Regions from separate parts of the Homo sapiens genome. Here region 2 is linked to region 1. The links come from fine-mapping of genetic effects on gene expression. Tissue or cell type: spinal cord. Region 1 holds a variant in brackets; the other region holds the start of a gene. All regions are shown on one strand. Distances are between the middles of the regions. Region 1 overlaps SPATA6 (spermatogenesis associated 6). Region 2 holds the start of SPATA6 (spermatogenesis associated 6).

Evidence for each region. PIP is the estimated chance that this variant, and not a neighbour inherited with it, causes the effect. A credible set is the group of variants that fine-mapping cannot tell apart.
Region 2: SPATA6 starts here. The variant in region 1 is the best candidate, but not a certain one, in a credible set for the expression of SPATA6 in spinal cord (GTEx, PIP 0.88).

What each region holds. Positions count from the first base shown.
Region 1 is chr1:48,407,929-48,412,323 of GRCh38, forward strand. SPATA6 (spermatogenesis associated 6) reads right to left here. Exons shown (of 13, transcript NM_019073.4): 5 at 3,536-3,660. Among named protein-coding and RNA genes, the nearest start is that of SPATA6, 62 kb to the right of the region's middle. The variant T/C (reference allele first, on the strand shown) is at 2,069.
Region 2 is chr1:48,469,495-48,473,889 of GRCh38, forward strand. SPATA6 (spermatogenesis associated 6) reads right to left here and starts at 2,710. Exons shown (of 13, transcript NM_019073.4): 1 at 2,464-2,710. The coding sequence starts at 2,514. LOC124904175 (a long non-coding RNA gene) reads left to right here and starts at 876. Exons shown (of 2, transcript XR_007066074.1): 1 at 876-1,458. RefSeq lists a silencer at 2,392-2,781 and an enhancer at 2,992-3,041.

The sequences.
Region 1 (4,395 bases):
TAAATTACATTAAAGAGACCATAATTTTAAAATGTGATTATTTGTTCATTGTATGTTTCCACACAGATCTTGAAATACTCTTTGAAGACTTTCATAGTACAGAAGCATGCTAATGGACACTGAAATATCCCCAAAGAAAGTATAGTTTTATAGACTTGCTACTTAGTCAACTTTTATACTTTCATAAAGATGAAGCTGCTTTTTCTTGGAATAGGGCATATCATAAATCTATAGGAGAAATTACTTAGTTAACTATATTTGTTCATATATCAACACTCTCCTTATTCGGACTACTCTAATATTTTATACAATTAGTTTTAAAGGTCTATCCAAATAATTTCAAGCTGGACAATTTTTGCTTTTCCTCTTTTGAAATGGCATGGGCTTCTCTCAGTTTCTCTGCATGGAAGACTTACTTTCAGCAATAAAATATTTTCAAATCATCCACAGAACTTGAAGGAAGTTATAGTAAAGGATAGAGAGTAAGCTGTCACTTGATGCAGCTTTTAATTTTAGGTGTATGAATATATATTTCCATTATATACATATTTTACAATTAATCTATCTAAACTCCTACTAACAGACATATCAATTATTTCAATTTTTCACTATTATGAACCAACAGGTAAACATTCTTAAGAAGGCTCTTAGTGTACCAGAGAGAATACATCTTTAAGATAGATATTGTATTAGTTCATTTTTAATGGTACTGATAAAGACATACCTGAGAATGGGCAATTTACAAAAGAAAGAGGTTTACTGGACTTACACTTCCACATGGTGGAATGCAGGGAGGAGCAAGTCACATCTTACATGGATGGTGGCAGACAAAGAGAGAGCTTGTGCAAAGAAATTCCCATTTTTTAAACCATCAGATCTCATGAGACCCATTCACTATCATGAGAACAGCGTGAGAAAGACCCATCCCCATGATTCAATCATCTCCCACCAGGTCCCTCCCATAGCACATGAGAATTATGGGAGCTGCAAGATGAGATCTGGGTAGGGACCCAGAACCACACCACATCATTCAGTCCCTGGACCCTCCCAAATCTCTTATCTTCACATTTCAAAACCAATCATGCCTTCCCAACAGTCCCCCAAAGTCTTAACTCATTTCAGCATTAACTCAAAAGTCCACAGTCCAAAGTTTCATCAAGACAAGGCAAGTGCCTTCCACTTTTGAGCCTGTAAAATCAAAAACAAGTTAGTACTTCCTAGATACAACGGGGGTATAGGCATTGAGTAAATACAACAACTCCAAATGGGAGAAATTGACCAAAACAAAGGGGCTACAGGCCCCATGCAAGTCCAAAATCCAGCAGGGCAATCAAATCTTAAAGCTCCAAAATGATCTCCTTTGACTCCATATCTCACATCCAGGTCACACTGATACAAGAGGTACGTTCCCATGGTCTTGGGCAGCTCCGCCCCTGTGGCTTTGCAGGGTATAGCCTCCCTAATGGCTGCCTTCACTGGTTGGCACTGAGTGTCTGCAGTTTTTTCCAGGCACATGGTGCAAGCTGTCAGTAGATCTACCATTCTGGGATCTGGAGAATGGTGGCCCTCTTCTCACAGCTCCACTAGGCAGTGCCCCAGTAGGGACTCTGTGTGGAGGCTCTGACCCCACATTTCCCTTCTAGGCTGCCCTAGCAGAGGTTCTCCATGAGCACCTCGCCCCTGCAGCAAACTTCTGCCTGGGCATCCAGGCGTTTCCACACATCTTCTGAAATCTAGGCAGAAGTTCCCAAACCTCAATTCTTGATTTCTGTGCACTTGCAGGCTCAACACCACATGGAAGCTGCCAAGGCTTGAGGCCTGCACCCTCTGAAGCCACGACCCAAGCTCTATGTTAGCCCCTTTCAGCCATGGCTGGAGTGGCTGAGACACAGCACCAAGTCCCTAGGCTGCACACAGCACAGGGACCCTGGGCCTAGCCCACAAAACCACCTTTTCCTCTTAGGCCTCAAGGCCTGTGATGGGAAGGGCTGCTACAAAGGTCTCTGACATGCCCTGGAGACATCTGCCCCACTGTCTTGGTGATTAACATTCAGCTCCTTGTTACTTA[T/C]GCAAATTTCTACAGCTGGCTTGAATTTCTACTCAGAAAATTGAATTTTCTTTTCTATCCCATTGTCAGGCTGCAAATTTTCCAAACTTTTATGTTCCATTTCCCTTTTGAAATTGAATGCCTTTAACAGCACCCAAGTCACCTCTTGAATGCTTTGCTGCTTAGAAATTTCTTCCACCAGATACCCTAAATCATCTCTCTCAAGTTCAAAGTTCCACAGATCTCTAGCACAGGGGCAAAATGCTGCCACTCTCTTTGCTAAAGCATAGCAAGAGTCACCCTTATTCCAGTTCCCAACAAATTTCTCATCTTCATCTGAAACAACCTCCGTCTGGACTTCATTGTCTATATCACTAACAGCATTATAGTCAAAGCCATTCAACAAGTCTCTAGGAAGTTCCAAACTTTCCCACATCTTCCTGCTTTCTGAGCCCTCCAAACTGTTCCTCCATCTGCCCATTACCCAGTTCCAAATTCACTTCCACATTCTCGGGTATCTTATAGCAATGCCACACTACCTCGGTACCAATGTACTGTATTAATCCATTGTCATATTGCTAGCAAGAAATATCTGAGACTGGGTAATTTATCAGGAAAGAGGTTTAACTGACTCACAGTTTTACATGGCTGGGAAGGCCTCAGGAAACTTACAATCACAGTGGAAGGGGAAGAGGCAAATCATCTTACATGGCAGCAGGCGAGAGAGAAAATGTGTGTGCAGCAGGAAATGTCAAACACTTATAAAACCATCAGATTTCGTGAGAACTCACTTGCTATCATGAGAACAGCACGGGGGAAACCACCCTCATGATCCAATCACCTCCCACCAGGTCCCACCCCTGACACACAAGGATTACAGGGATTACAATTCAAGATGAGATTTGGGTGGGGACACAGAGCCTAACCATATCACATGGTATAGCAGCATATGAAAGATTCTAAGTTTTTCACTTTTATCAGATTTATTAAATTTTCCCAATCTTATAGCTATATAAATGAAATCATATGGTTGTTTTAACTTGGATTTCTCTGAATACTAATGAGTTAGAGTATTTTTTCAAATGTTTATTATCATCCCTTAGAGAGAAAAATAAAGAGAAGAAAGAGACAGAGAGACAGAGATGGGATGGGGAGAGAAGGGGATGACAGAGATTTGAAGAATGTCAATTACAATTTAAAAAATTTTTAATGGCACTTTTTATTAAATTATTTTCATTTAGATTTCAATATGTTTAAGTAACCAATTTACTGTATTAGTCTGTTTTTACATTGCTGTAAATAAATATCTTTATATGTTTAAGTAACATATTGAAATCTAAAACAATTAAGATTTAAACTACAAAACAATTAAGTAAACTAAATTACACTTTGAATTTGTTCTTCACATTTAAGATGGCGAGCACTATGCGGTGGTTTCTGACAATGATTTTCCATCAAAAACTGATTCAGAAAATTGCAAGCACTTACTCGAAGGCCAGAAATCCTCCTCATGGTAACCTGGCGGTTTGAATCATGGTGTCCAGACATTTGGTTTGGACCCGGAAACATGAAATCTCGTGTATTTTCGTCATACGTAGACAGTGTTTCACCCACTACAAGAAAGATACCCTATGATTCAAATTATAATAAAATATTCTATTTAGAAACAAAATCATCAAGTATGATATATCTACTGCCTGATGCCTTATTGAAATACCTGTTTTGGGTCATGTTTATTTTCTATGAAAGGAAAATTAAAATAAAGATATGTTAAAAATATTAACACATTTTCCTTTTTCAGAAACATACTACAAAAATATGAAGTTGGTCCAACATTTATATGTCAGTTACCATCTCCACATTGGTTTTTGTTTGTTTGTTTTTGAGACAGACTTTTTTTTTTTTGAGATGGAGTTTCACTCTTTTTGCCCAGGCTGGAGTGCAATGGTGCCATCTCAGCTCACTGCAACCTCCACCCCACCCTGGGTTCAAGTGATTCTCCTCCTGCAGCCTCCTGAGTAGCTGGGACTACAGGCATGCGCCACCACACCTAGCTATATATTTTTAGTAGAGATGGGGTTTCAACATGGTGGCCAGGATGGTCTCAATCTCCTGACCTCATGATCTGCCCACCTTGGCCCCACAAAGTGCTGGGATTACAAGCATGAGCCACCGCGCCCAGCCAGCACTCTATTTTTCACATAAAATAAAAATTTGATTAATATAGATGTCATCTATAATCACAGAAATCAATATCAGAAATGAAACTAGCCTCTATATTTTAACTCTGCCTTCTCCAGGGAACTGTAACATTTACTACATAAGTAAGGTTTTATTCTCTTCCCTTC
Region 2 (4,395 bases), 62 kb after region 1:
TATATGTTGTGTGGTATGTGAGAGAGAGTTTGTGTATCTGTTTATATCAAAACCAGTGAAAATGGTTAAAGCAGATGAGTATAGGTGGGAAATAGTTTTGAGCCTGGAAGCAACACTTCTCTGAGTATATCATGTTATAGTCTTGAACTTGAACCATGTAAATGTAAAAAGGAAATAGACAAGAAAGGAACTAAAATCAAAATGAAGATGTTAAAAATATCTAGGGTCATATAACCTTTCTATTCAATCAAAGCCAAATTAATCAATCAATCAAACATGTTTAACTTTTACGTCTGCTAGTGGGGTTTTTTTTGTGGGGGGGGCGGTCAGGGGCGTTGTTTGTTTGCTCCTTCTGAGCATCAGAGCCATTTTAAAAGGCTTTTGTTGTTCAAAAATTCGGGAACATTTTGCACATCTGCTTCTAAACAGTTGTGCAATCCTAGATAAATAATAGCCATGCTGAGCATCGATTTTCTTGGCTGTAAAAAGGGATTGAATCCAATGATTTCCATCTAAGATGTCTCGGAACTATAAAATTCTGTGACTTAAATGTTTGTTGGGGAAAAATATTATTTCCACCATCATAGTTTTCTTTAGCTCTGATAAGTAACAAAGCTCCGTTATACAGTGAATTACACAGTCATTCACTTTTCTGCAATACAACTAATACTCAGGAGAAATGTAGCTATTCCTCCGACTCCTTCAAGCAGTAATCAGTTACAACAGAGTACTTCCTCTTAGAAAGTTTGTATTGGCAACGTTAGGGAAGCTGCAGCCAGCCAGTCAGGCAGCTGCGCTCACCAGACTGCTAAACACCATTAGTTGGCAGGAGGAGGAAGAAGCCAGTAACAAAATCTATTAAGGCTGAACTCTGAAGGAGTTTCACTAACTTGTGTCCTGGGCCAAGGGATCGAGAAAGTTTCGTGCATTCTTCTTGCTAAACTAATTTTACTTTACAAAAAGTTGTCAAAAATGGCAGCTTTGGGAGGAAAACAAGCAAAGCTAGGGCTATGGAGTTTCCGAGAAAAATCTCTGCAGGCTTGAAGATAAAGGGAGAGTCCAAGAAAATTTCTACTTCACCACCACTGCCTCACACTCTGCCCCACGCACACTTGCCTTCTTTAAGACCTAACAAAAGACCTAAAACAGTCCTGTGATTTTCCTAGGGGTTTAAGTTCTGTGCTGCAGCAACCTCATTCTAACGTGACGAAGGCCAGCCAGGAAAGGCGGGAAGCTGCAAGCACGGGTTAAGTGGAGCCTGGCCAGTAGGGTGTACAGGAAGGAAATGCAGAGGGCTCCTGGCTGCAGCACCCAGGAGAGTAATGGTAATATTTCAGCACTCTCAACCCCCAAGTTTTCCTAGGAGATCAAACAGAAGGCAATATACATAAGAAGACTTACTGAGTAAGAAGGAGCGAAGAGACCGAATGGTGAATTTTGGTTCCAAACTCCGTACAGGTCTGTGCCTGCAGGACTAAAACGGGGTGTGGAAAGGGTCTTGTGGAGATTTCCTCCAGAACAGACAAGCGGGAGTATTCCTCTAAACAGGGGAATGAGAGGGTTCTCTAAAGAATGCAGGGGAAGAAGTTCAAAACCCTTGGAAGTCTTCTGAGATCAACAAGGGGAATAGAGTTTTCTCCTAGCATGGAGAGGTCCAGCCCCTTCACTGGATGAGTGGGGTTCTCTGCCCCAGCTGGACTTCCACAGGAGGATGGAGGAAAGCATCCTCTTGAGCAAGTCTGGAGAGTGAAGGGGTGGGGTTGCAAGGTTGGAGAAGGAGGTGTTTCCCTCATAAAAATGACTGGGCCTTTCTTGCAATGGCTGGCACAAAGTCGGAAGGGTCTGGGGACGGGAGGGGCCTGAAGTGATTTCTGAGGAGTTGGGTTTTTCCTGTAAGGCCCTGGGAGGGAAGGCAAGGTACTTTGCGCAATGACACATTTCAGTTGTTGGATGTGAAGATTCTCCTTCGAAGACAGAATAAAGAAAGGCCCCTTCATTAATGCGGGTTTGAAACTGGTCTGAAATGGTGTGCCTGCAGGGATTCGGGAGGAAATGCGACGCCCACCCCCAGACTTGGGAAAGGCGGGGGCAATAATTCTCTAAGAGAACTGGAGCCCGAAAGAGGAATGAAAAGCCCCCGCGCCGCGCACATACACTCTCTCTCACTGGAAAGTTAGGAGCGAGGAAAGAACTCTGAAGTGATTTGGGAACGATCTGAAAGCGCGCAAGTTGGAAGTCGGGTTGAAGCCAGCATAGCGGAGCAGGGGTCAGGCCTCTGCGTGGCCGGAGTGGGAGAGCGCTTCTGAGAACAAGATGGGGCAGGACCGAAGGGGCGTGAGGTCGACGCTCCCTAGGGATGATTCGGAGGGTGAAGGAGGTTTGGGGGTGGTTCCGGGCTCTCGGAGGTGACTGAGGGAGTCCCTGAGCCAATGCCCGGGGGTGGGAGGCGCTACCGGTACTCACTGAGCTGATCTCCAGCGCCAGGGCGCACTGCAGCGCCTTCACCTTCGGCATCCGTGCGGGGAGGGGCGGCGGGGAGTGACCCCGGCCACGGGCCCGAGTGAGGCGGGGAGACCTGGGGCTGGGCGGGGACGGGGAGGAGACGAGGTGGCGGCGGCGGTGGCAGCAGTGGCCCCCAGGCCGGGGCCCGCGGTCCAGCCTGGGTTCCGCCGGAGAAGCAGCTGAGCGCGGGGCGCAGACTCGTTGTCATGGCAGCCAGGAGGGGCGGGGCCGGAAGAGAGGCCGCGCGGGGCACTCCAGGGCTACCCGCGCTGGGACGAGCGCTGGAGGCGGAGCTTGACGAACGCCGAGCGAGGCGGAGTCGGGCAGGGGGCGGGGCTTCCGAAGGGGCGGGGTGAGGCAAGGCAGCTCTTCTGTGACGTCAAACTGCGCCCAAAGCCGGACGAAAGGGAGCTGCTGTTTGTATAATGGGACGGTGCTCTGTTCAGGGAGTTGGAGTTCCTGTAAGGCCGTCGGAGGGAACCCCTGAGTTACAACGTGGTGATGGCACCTTGGGCTAGTGGCGACCCACTGTGGCCTCAGTTTTCCCAATTGTAAAAGAATAATAATTATTGTTAGTCCTCCTATTTAAATTTCACGGCACGGTTTACAAAGCCAGCATAAGGATACTGGGAATTAGGGAAGAGACTTGCCCAAATCAAAGTCGGAACCAGGACTGGAACCCAGGAGCTCTCAAGTTAAACCCCAGTTGCCTCCCTGAGGAGAGGGGCTTGCATCAGATGGTCCATACTCCTAGTCTCCTATTCTGTGATTCCCTTTGTTAGCGCGTTCCCTTTTCCCTTCAAATTTTCCTGTCTAATTCACCCATGTATGCGTCTTAATGCATATTGCTTAAGTGGAACTGTCAATGAGGTGCCAACAATAAGTCCAGCTGTGAAGGGCCTGACAATAGACCATCAAAGATAAAAAGAACCTAAGAGATTGCCCAATCCAATCATGTTAAAAATCATTTGTATTGCAAAATACATTATACATGCAGAAGTGTATAAAACACGTTTATCTTAATAATAATGTGAACAGTACCTGTACAACTAGCACCCGGTTAAGAAATAAAACATTACCAGCACCTGAAAAATGCCCCCAACGATTACATTGCCTTTCTCGCCCTGGAGTAACCACTACCCTGACTTTTGTACAATAATTCTCTTCCTTTTGCCATTCATGTATGCATTTCTAAACAAGATATTGTTTAATGTTTTCCGGTATTGATAGTATATAAATGGTATTAATACTGTATGTATTCTTCTGTGATTTGCTTCTCCCACTTAATATTATGCCACCGGTGATGCTGTGTAGCTGAAGTTTTTTCCATTGCTGGACAGTATTCCAATATAGATTGATTTATCCTTCCTACTATCAATGATCACTTACACTGTTTTCATTTTTAGCTATTATTAACAATGTTGTGAACATTGTAGTACAAGTCTGTGTCTATTAATGCACATGTACTAGCGTAGGAGTGGGTTAGCTGGGTATTAGGGTTTTGCACATGTGGGTCTTTAAAAAGTAAGACCACACCATTTTCCAAAGTAGTGTACCTATTTATGTTTCTGGTGCTTATGTATAAGAGTTCTTATTTTTCCACATCATCAGCAACATTTGTGTTTGGATTTTTAACTTTTGTATATTTGGATGTGTGTATTTTAGGTATTTCATTGTGGTTTTATCTTGAATCTCTGGGTACTGTTGAGGTTGAGTACCTTTGGTTTTGTTAGCCTTTCCATTATCTCTTATTGAACTGCCAAGTAGTTATCTTGCCCCCTTTTCTGTTGGTCTCTCTCTCAGTTCTTTATATACTCTGGATAATAATTATATGTCTACTCTATATGTTGCAAATATCCTTTCCACTTTGTGTTTGTATTTTAATTTTACATA